Linked DNA regions of Homo sapiens. The protein of the gene in region 1 purifies or fractionates together with the protein of each later gene. This does not show direct contact. Each region holds a gene or a part of one and is shown on either strand. Other genes may lie near its edges.

The links.
Region 2: the proteins of NHLH1 (region 1) and CLPX purify together in Homo sapiens (affinity purification with mass spectrometry; one large-scale study listed by BioGRID and IntAct). This does not show direct contact.

The regions. Positions count from the first base shown.
Region 1 is NC_000001.11:160,369,146-160,374,026, reverse strand, and holds the end of NHLH1 (helix-loop-helix protein 1), read right to left. Parts: intron 3,471-4,881; 5' UTR 3,296-3,470; coding exon 2,894-3,295; 3' UTR 1,181-2,893; downstream 1-1,180. UniProt on the Homo sapiens protein: May serve as DNA-binding protein and may be involved in the control of cell-type determination, possibly within the developing nervous system.
Region 2 is NC_000015.10:65,178,843-65,183,144, reverse strand, and holds part of CLPX (ATP-dependent clpX-like chaperone, mitochondrial precursor), read left to right. Parts: intron 1-2,940; coding exon 2,941-3,101; intron 3,102-4,093; coding exon 4,094-4,211; intron 4,212-4,302. UniProt on the Homo sapiens protein: ATP-dependent chaperone that functions as an unfoldase.

The sequences.
Region 1 (4,881 bases):
ACCTTAAGTTTGGAGAGGATCTTCTAATGAACCTAGCCAGTGTTCCATCTGAGGCAGCAATGTGCTCTATGATTTCTCTGCGTGTGGTTGACTCTCCAGCTTCTCTATTTGGAGTTCTCCTCTTGAGGCAGTCAGTGCCATTGCTGGACAGCTCCAGGTGTTGCAAAATTTTTCTTCAAATTAAAATCTGCTTTCTTCTAACTTCTACTCACGGGTTTTGTTCGGCCTACTGGGGCCCCACAGAATATCCATTTTTGATTCTTCTTTCAATATTTAAAGATGGGTGTCATATTACCCCCAAGTCTACTCTTATCAAGACACATATCCTCAGTTTTTCAACTATTTCTTCTATAAAGTGGTCTCCAGACCTTTTGGTTTCTTCGCCACACAACCCTAAATCCTCTCTAGTTTATCAATGCACCTATGAAAATATGGGGTCCAAAAGAGGGCTAACTGTCAGCCTGGGTCATTTTAGGGAGGCAGAGGGGAGTTGGCAGCATATGGTAGAAAGAACCTGGATTTGGGCCTTAGTTGTGCCCCCAGTTAGCTGTGTGGCCTTGGGTAAGACCCTACCCTTCTCTGAGCTTTAGTGTCCCCATCTATAAATTCATTTGAGGGTCCCTTCAGCACTCTTTTTTTTTTTTTATCCCTGTCCATATTCTTCTCTGAGTCCCAGGCCTGCCATCTGTTTTCCCCAGTATCCTAAGGCTGGGGAACACAAAATAGGCCAAGAACTGAGATTGCAGGGAATTTTGACCCAGCCTAGAGACAATAAAGGGGAAGGCAATGTCTCAGTTTCATACCATAGCTTTTCCCAGCAGCATGGACCCACAGACACATGTTTAACTTGGGTTCCACCGAAATATTCACCTCCTTCTCAGGCCATAGAGAGCAGGAGCGGAAGCACAACATCAGAGAAGTCAGATAGTGTCACTAAATTAGTGCCAAGAAGGGAGTATCTGGCACCCAGATTTTGGTGAGGAGATCTTGGACCTGTATGTTATACTCTCCCCTGCACCTCTTTTCCCTGTGGCCCCTTTTCTCTGTCTTCATTTGTTCCCCAAACTGAGCTCTCCTGACCCCATCAGAAGAGCCTACGAAGCCTAGGACCCTCAATGCCCACCCTACCATAACCTGCAGGCCAGCTTCCTAACCCAATTGAATGAGCCACAACCATACCTGGTGCTAGAACGAGGTCACTTTTATTTTTCTTTTTGTATGAAATTGGGGATGCAACCAGAAGGAATCACACAGAGATATGTGACACAGACCCCTGGGGCCTGCTCTTGGGAGTATCAGGAAGAGGCAAGGGTCACAGGGCAGGCTGGGGAGAGAAAAGAGGCAGATGGGACCAGGTAGGATTGTCTAGGGGTGGAGGGAGTTGAGGAAGGACATCCAGGAGCCCTGGAGCTGGGGGAGGAGCACTATCCTGGAGGACTAGAGTGTCAGGACAGGTGGATCTGGGGAAAGGATATGGTGTGGCAAGCAAAGGGCATGCTCACACACACCAGGAGTTGAAGAAGGAGCAAGAAAAGGAAAGGCGTAAGCAGGGAGGAAGCAAGAGAGACCCAGCTAGAGCTGCTGGGAGCCCCTCACTCTACCCCAAAGTGCACAACTCGGCAATAAATAGCAATATTTATAAATAAATAAATAAGTAAATAAATAGATGAATAAATAAATAAATAAATAAATATACTTGTAGAGCTAGGAGTTTGGTGCGAGGGAGGAGGGAGCACAGAAATGCAGTGAGTTCATTTCTTCTATGCAGGTTCTAAGGCCCTTCATTCCACTGCTGACCCTGAGCTATAGTGCGCAGGTGGGGATCAGCAGCATGGAGTAGGGGCGCAGAGTTGGGGGTCTCTTCCCTTGCCAAAGGCAGCTCAAGGAAAGAGAAAAAAATGTAATAAGTAAGTCCTAGGGCCAGGAGAACTGTGCATTTTCAGAGGGCAACAATTGGGCATCCTCCTTGCGTTGGGGGGAGGAACCAGTGAGGGTGCTGCACATTTTCAGAGTGGGCTGAGATGAGGAAGCAGAAGTGAGATGTGGCCCACTCGTTGCCTGAGCCTTCTGCAAATACTCCGGGCTGTTTGGGATGTCATCCCCTAATCCGGAATCTAGGTTTTTGTTTTTTTTTTTCTCTAGTGACACACAGGGAGGGAGAAAATTGGGACAGTAGGAGTCAGAGGGACAGGGAAGTAGCCAAATAGCTCAAAGAGGGCAAGGCACTCACTACCAAGTAAGATCTGAGGTCTGTATGTGCTAAGCCACAGGAACAAGATGGACAGAAACAGGAAGAGTTTTTCCATAATTCCCAGCTACTGAGATTCCCCTCACAGGAGTCAGGGCACCAACCCCTGCCTCCCCAGGGCCTCACCCCTCTGCCAAGCACTGAGAGACTGAGATCTTGGAGGAAGAAGCCCACTCCCCACTCTAACCCCAGCCTTCCTCCCTTGCAATTCTGACAGCCCATCCCCACCAGGGGCAGGAGAAGCTAGAACAGATAGGATACACAGCTGAGGTCTGTGGTGGCTGAAAATTTGGACATAGGGGTAGAAGAGGCAGCATTCAGTGAGAGAGCTTGGGGGCAGACTCCAAGTGTGGCTGGCTTAGTAAAGCCAGCAAGGATTCCATACCAACCACACTAGCAAACAATTCTGCACAGCTGGGCCTCAGCAATAAACCCCGGAAGGAACCCAGGAGAATAGCCCTCGAGGTGCCTGGGTCAGAGAAAGGAAGAGGCCCTCATGACCAGCCGGTGGGCTCTCTGCCTGTGCCCAGGGCCTTTGGGACTCCATGCCAAGGTATAAGGGCTCGGGGAGGATGCGGCCTTTCTAAGCAGTGAGCGGTGGAAAGGGGCCCCAGAGAGGCCCGGGAGGTGGGAGACAGGCTGAGTTCAGACGTCCAGCACGTGGTTCAGGTAGGAGATATAGCAGATGGCCAGGCGCAGAATCTCAATCTTGGAGAGCTTCTTGTCGGGGGGCAGCGTAGGCAGCAGCTTGCGCAGCTCGGCGAAGGCCAGGTTGAAGGCTTCCACGCGGATGCGTTCTCGCGTGGCGTGGGCCGTGCGGTACTTGGCTGTGGCGCGGCGCCGGCGCCGGCGCTCCTCGCGGCTCAGATGCTGCAGGTCTTTCCGGCCAGGCTCTCCCGGCTCTGGGCCTCGGGCCTGGCCCCCTCCCGGACCCCCAGGCCCGGCACCATCAGGGCCCGCCCCGCCCCCACAGTCACTGAAGCCCGACTCAGTCTCTGAGTGGGTGGGCGGCAGGTCCAGCTCCATGGTGTCTGAGTTGAGCATCATGATGGAAGCCCCCTGCCCTGTGAGATCAGGATCCCCTCCCCACCCCTCCCTCTGGGAGCTTGAAAGCTGGTGGTGGGAGGGGGAGGAAGGGGGAGGAAGGGTCGTGGGGTCTGCCACTGAGCTCTAGAAGTCACTGCCACTTCAGGGTTCCATGGTCAGGGTGCCAGTCTGAAGCCTGAAAAAGAGAAGAGAGAAGTGATAGCAGCGGAGGGAGGAGGGAATGCTCAGCTCAGAGGTGGGAAAGCAGGTTTGAGATGGGCTGGGAGGGGTAAGGAACTGTGAATGTGAGGGAAGAACAGCAGAAACTGGTGGGGGTCGGGGGGTGGGGAGAGGCCGAGAGACAGAGAGGCAGGTGGACAGGGTGAAAGGAAGAGGAGGACGAAAGGTAGTAAGAAGGGAAGAGAAAACGAGTAACAGGAAAGGAACAGAAGTGATGAGAAGGATACACCAGGCAGGTTAAAACTGAGCAAGAGGATTAAAGACTTAAAACCATAAAACTCCTAGAAGAAAACATAGGGAGAGACCTTCATGATGTTGGACTCAGCAGTGATTTCTTGGAAATGACACCAAAAGCACAGGCAACAAAAAGCAAAAATAGAAAAAACGGGACCACATCAGACTTTAATTTATTGACGAACATAATCAACAGAGTGAAAAGGCAATCTATGGAATGGGAGAAAATATTTGCAAATTATATATCTGATAAGGGGTTAATATCCAGAACATATAAATAAATCCTACAACTCAACAACAGCAAAAAATCAAATAACCCAATTTAAAAATGGGCAAAGGAGGGATTGGGAGGGGCGTGAAATGAGAAATTACAGAATGGGTACCGTGTATGTTATTCAGGTGATGGACATCCTAAGAGCCCTGACTTGACCATTATGCAATCTATGCATGTAACAAAATTGCACTTGTACCCCATAAATTTATATAAATAAACATTTTTTAAGAAAAAAATGGGTAAAGGACTAGAATACACATTTCTCCAAAGATTTTATACAAATGGCCAACAAGCATATGAAAAAATGTTCAACATCACTAATCATTAAAATGCAAATCAAACCCACTATGAAATATCACTTCATACCCATTAGGATGGCTACTATAAAAACAAAAACCAAACAAACAAAAAATAAGTCTTGGCAAGGATGTGGAGAAATTGGAACCCTTATGCCTTGTTGGGATTGCAAAATGATGCAACCACTATGGAAAACAGTATAAATGTTCCTCAAAAAATAAAAAATAGAACTACCATATGCTCCAGGAATCCTACCTCTGGGTATATATACAAATAAAGTAGGGTGTCAAAGAGATATTTGCACACTCATGTTCATAGCAGCACTATTCACAATAGCCAAGAGGTAGAAGCAACCCAAATGTCCATCAATAGACAACAGATAAACAAAATGTATTATATACATACAGTGGAATATTATTCAGCCCTAAAAAGGAAGTTCTGTCACATGCTACAGCATGAATGAACCTTGAGGATATGATGATAAGTGAAATAAACCAGTAACAACACAAATACTGTATAGCTCCACTTATATGAGGTATTTAAAGTAGTCTAATTCATAGAA
Region 2 (4,302 bases), on another chromosome or scaffold:
TTGCCCGGGCTGGAGTGCAGTAGCGCGATCTCGGCTCACTGCAACCTCCGTCTCCTGGGTTCAAGCAATTCTTCTGCCTCAGCCTCCTGAGTAAGCTGGGGTTACAGGCGCGCGCCACCACGCCCCACTAATTTTTATATTTTTAGTAGAGACGGGATTTTGCCATGTTCGTCAGGCTGGACTCCAACTCCTGGACCCCAGGAGATCACCCGCCTTGGCCTCCCAAAGTGCTAGGATTACAGGCTTGAGCCACCGCACCCGGACTAGTATTTCTTTTTAAAAACAGTTGTTCTGAAATTTAGAAAGCTTTGTCTGTATGATAAAGTTCTGTAAATAGTGAAACTTAAATTGTCTTTTCTGGTTGCTGCCAGGTAATCTGGTGAAATATACTTTACAGAAACACTTCTCTTTTTTGGCTTTCAGAGCTTCACCTGGGGTTTACAGGCCTCCAAAGGGTCCTTGAATAGAATTCAGAGATTCTGTGAACTTTATTTTCACTAAGCTCTAACTGAAACACAACGTTTCCTTGGCCTATGAATGTGGGCAACACATCCACAGTAGTCTTAGAAGTGTCTGTGGATTTGTCATCAATCAAAATCAGAAATATTTTCATATCACATTATAGTTGCTGATATTTCAGAATATTGTCCATACTTTTTGCTACTTTGAAATCATAGTAATTATTTAAAAAGCTGTTAGATCTTATTTAATTTTGCTTGTTAATAAAGAGGCATATTTTAAAAATTTTTTGATAACTACTTCATTATAATTTGTTTCCTTTGTTATGTATTTTATTTTATACATTTAAAAATATTATTCTGAGAAGATCTATTCAGAGGCTTCACCAGACTGCTTAAGGGGTTCATGGCACAAAAAGTGTTAGAAATCCCAATTACTTTGCTACAGAGCTTTATCATTTTTATGAGGATTTTATGATTGGTGAATGGTCATTTTGATTGATTGCATCTGTCACTCTCCCTCAATTACTTTTTCTTTTTCTTTCTTTCTTTCTTTTTTTTTTTTTTTGAGACGGAGACTCTGTTGCTTAAGCTGGAGTGCAGTGGTGCCATCTCGGTTCACTGCAACCTCTGCTTCCTGGGTTCAAGCGATTCTTCTGCCTCAGCATCCCGGGTAGCTGAGACTACAGGCGCGTGTCACCATGCCCAGCTAATTTTTTGTATTTTTAGTAGAGATGGGGTTGCACCGTATTAGCCAGGATGGTCTCGATCTCCTGACCTTATGATCTGCCCCCCTGGGCCTCCCAAAGTGCTGGGATTACTGGCATGAGTCACTGCACCTGGCCCCCTCAATTACTTTTTCTAAGCCTACTTTTGGGATTGATACTATCTTTATTTATTTATTTATTTATTTATTTATTTATTTATTTATTTATTTTGCGACAGAGCCTCGCTCCGTTGCACAGGCTGGAGTACAGTGGCGCAATCTCGGCTCACTGCAACCTCTGCCTCGTTCAAGTGATTCCCCTGCCTCAGCTTCCCAAGTAGCTGGGATTACAGGCACCTGTCACCACGCCTGGCTACTTTTTGTATCTTTAGTAGAGACAGGGTTTCACCATGTTGGCCAGGCTGGTCTTAAACTCCTAACCTCAAGTGATCCACCCACCTCAACCTCCCAAAGTGCTGGGATTACAGGCGTGAGCCATCACACCTGGCTCCTTCAATTTTTTTATTGTGGTAAGATACATATAAAATTTACAAGACTTAACTATTTTTAGTGTATAGTTCGGTAGTATTAAGTACATTGATACTGTGCAACCATTGCCATCATCTTGTGAAACTGAAGCTCTGTACCCATTACAACAATAACTCTCCATTTTCCCCAACCCCCAGGAACCGCCATTCTACTCACTGACTCTATGATTTTGCCTTCTAAGTACCACGTGTAAGTGGAATAACACAATTTTTTAAAGAACTTTTTTTTTTTTTGAGACAGAGTCTCCCTCTGTTGCCCAGGCTGGAGTGCAGTGGCATGATCTTGGCTCACTGCAACCTCTGCCTCCTGGGTTCAAGCAATTCGCCTGCCTCAGCCTCCTGAGTAGCTGGGATTACAGACGCCTGCTAGCACACCCAGCTAATTTTTGTATTTTTAGTAGAGACAGGGTTTCACCACGTTGGCCAGGCTGGTCTCGAACCCTGGGATTACAGGCATGAGCCACCGCGCCTGACCTTAAAGAACATTTGAAGTTTGTTTCCATTGTTACAGATTTTTTTTTTTTTTTTTGAGATGGAGTCTCGCTATGTCACCCAGGCTGGAGTGCGGTGGCACGACTTCAGTTCGCTGCAAACTTCGCCTCCCGGGTTCAAGCGATTTTCCTGCCTCAGCCTCCCGAGTAGCTGGGATTAAAGGCGCCCACCACCATGCGTGGCCAATTTTTTTTTATTTTTAGTAGAGACGGGGTTTCACCATGTTGGCCAGGCTGGTTTTGAACTCCTGACCTCTAGTGATCCACCCGCCTAGGCCTCCCAAAATGCTAGGATTACAGGGGTGAGCCACCACACCCGGCCCAGATAGTATTCTTATATAATAACAGATGAGTTGCTGTCAGATGTTTATTCTCATTGGTAGAAATAATAAGAATATAGGGCATAAATGGCCTTTTTCAAAATCTTACAGGTGAGGCAGATGTTGAAGTCCATTCAAACTTTGAAAAAGTTATGACGTGGGTGATCTTGCCTTATTTCCAAAGGACACATACAGAAAGAAACACCTTTATTTATTTAGAATCTTTCAGAGGCCCAGACCTGCTGGCCTGTTTTTGAAAGGACTTTGCCTCCGTTGGTGTCATTTTTTTTCTCTCAGTTTATACTACTGTGAAAATGATAGCTTTTTTTCAACCTCCTTTATGCTCAAGGAATTTTTGTTTCCAGGGGATTTATTGAGGCATGTCTATATTTGATGTAGATTTCCTTTTATTTTCAGGTATTTCTGGTGGTCGCATTCATATGTCAGTTTTAGGAAGGCTTGGGACATTTGAAACTCAGATTCTGCAAAGAGCTCCTCTTAGATCCTTTACAGAAACACCAGCATACTTTGCCTCAAAAGATGGGATAAGTAAAGATGGTTCTGGAGATGGAAATAAGGTAATTATTTTATCTTATTGGCATCTGTACACATTGTGAGTTCCCTCCTTTAAAAAAATATAACAGTACTGTCTCTTACTGGCTTATATGTTTTCTGTAGGAAATATGAGATAGCTAAAATGATCTGAATAATTTTATGTAATTAGATGTTTCATTTTGAACCTTAAAATACTTTTATAAGCATTGCACATAGTAAGCAGTAATTAAAATTTCTTACACCCCAAAGTAGTAAAGAAGTGTCATTAAATGACAGTCAGTAGGATTGAATTAGGAATAGCCATCATTTCCTGCTTTCATATAACTCTTATAACCCATGGCAGTATAAACCTCACTTTATCCTCTACCTAAAAATTTCAGATTTGTGGTATAACTTAATGTTGGGCTACTCTGGTAGCCTAAAAATTTCATATTTCTGGTATAACTTTATGTTGTAGCTAGTATAACTTATGTTGGTAGTTGTATTGAGTCAGTGACTTAACAGTTTTTTTCATTACGTGAATTTGACTAACACTTGAGTTAATTTTATATGTTAGACAAAATGTGAGACACTTACATATCCATACTTAACAGTGACTCTGATGTGAGTAAAATTATTCCCATTTTAGAGATGAGAAAAGTTAGATCTAAGAATAGTCAGAGTCACTACCTACCATGATAATAACTCCTGATTCAATTTCATTGAAATGTAGTTTTTTACCCTTAGTAAATTTTCTAGTGCCTGAGTCATTGAATGAAAGCTGTTTATTATATATGTTGGCACATGTTATACAAAGGAGGACTGCAGATATATATGTATTTACTAGAACTGATTTGATTTTTGAAGTAAATAGATCTTCTGACACCAGTAATAGAATTATAAAATATACTAATAATTTCATCCTAGAAATATAGAAGATTATAAAATTAATTACAAACAGTATTGTTTACATTTAAGTTGGTTGCCTGAAACTAATAATTGACACTCTTCCTTTTTTCTCCTTCATAAACGTTAGAAATCAGCAAGTGAGGGAAGTAGTAAGAAATCAGGCTCTGGGAATTCTGGGAAAGGTGGAAACCAGCTGCGCTGTCCTAAATGTGGCGACTTGTGCACACATGTAGAGACCTTTGTATGTAAGTATTACATCTTCTACTGTTCTTTTTTCCCTACATTTTCTGTAAATTACTAAGTGTATAAAAATATGTAAATTATGTAAAATGTATA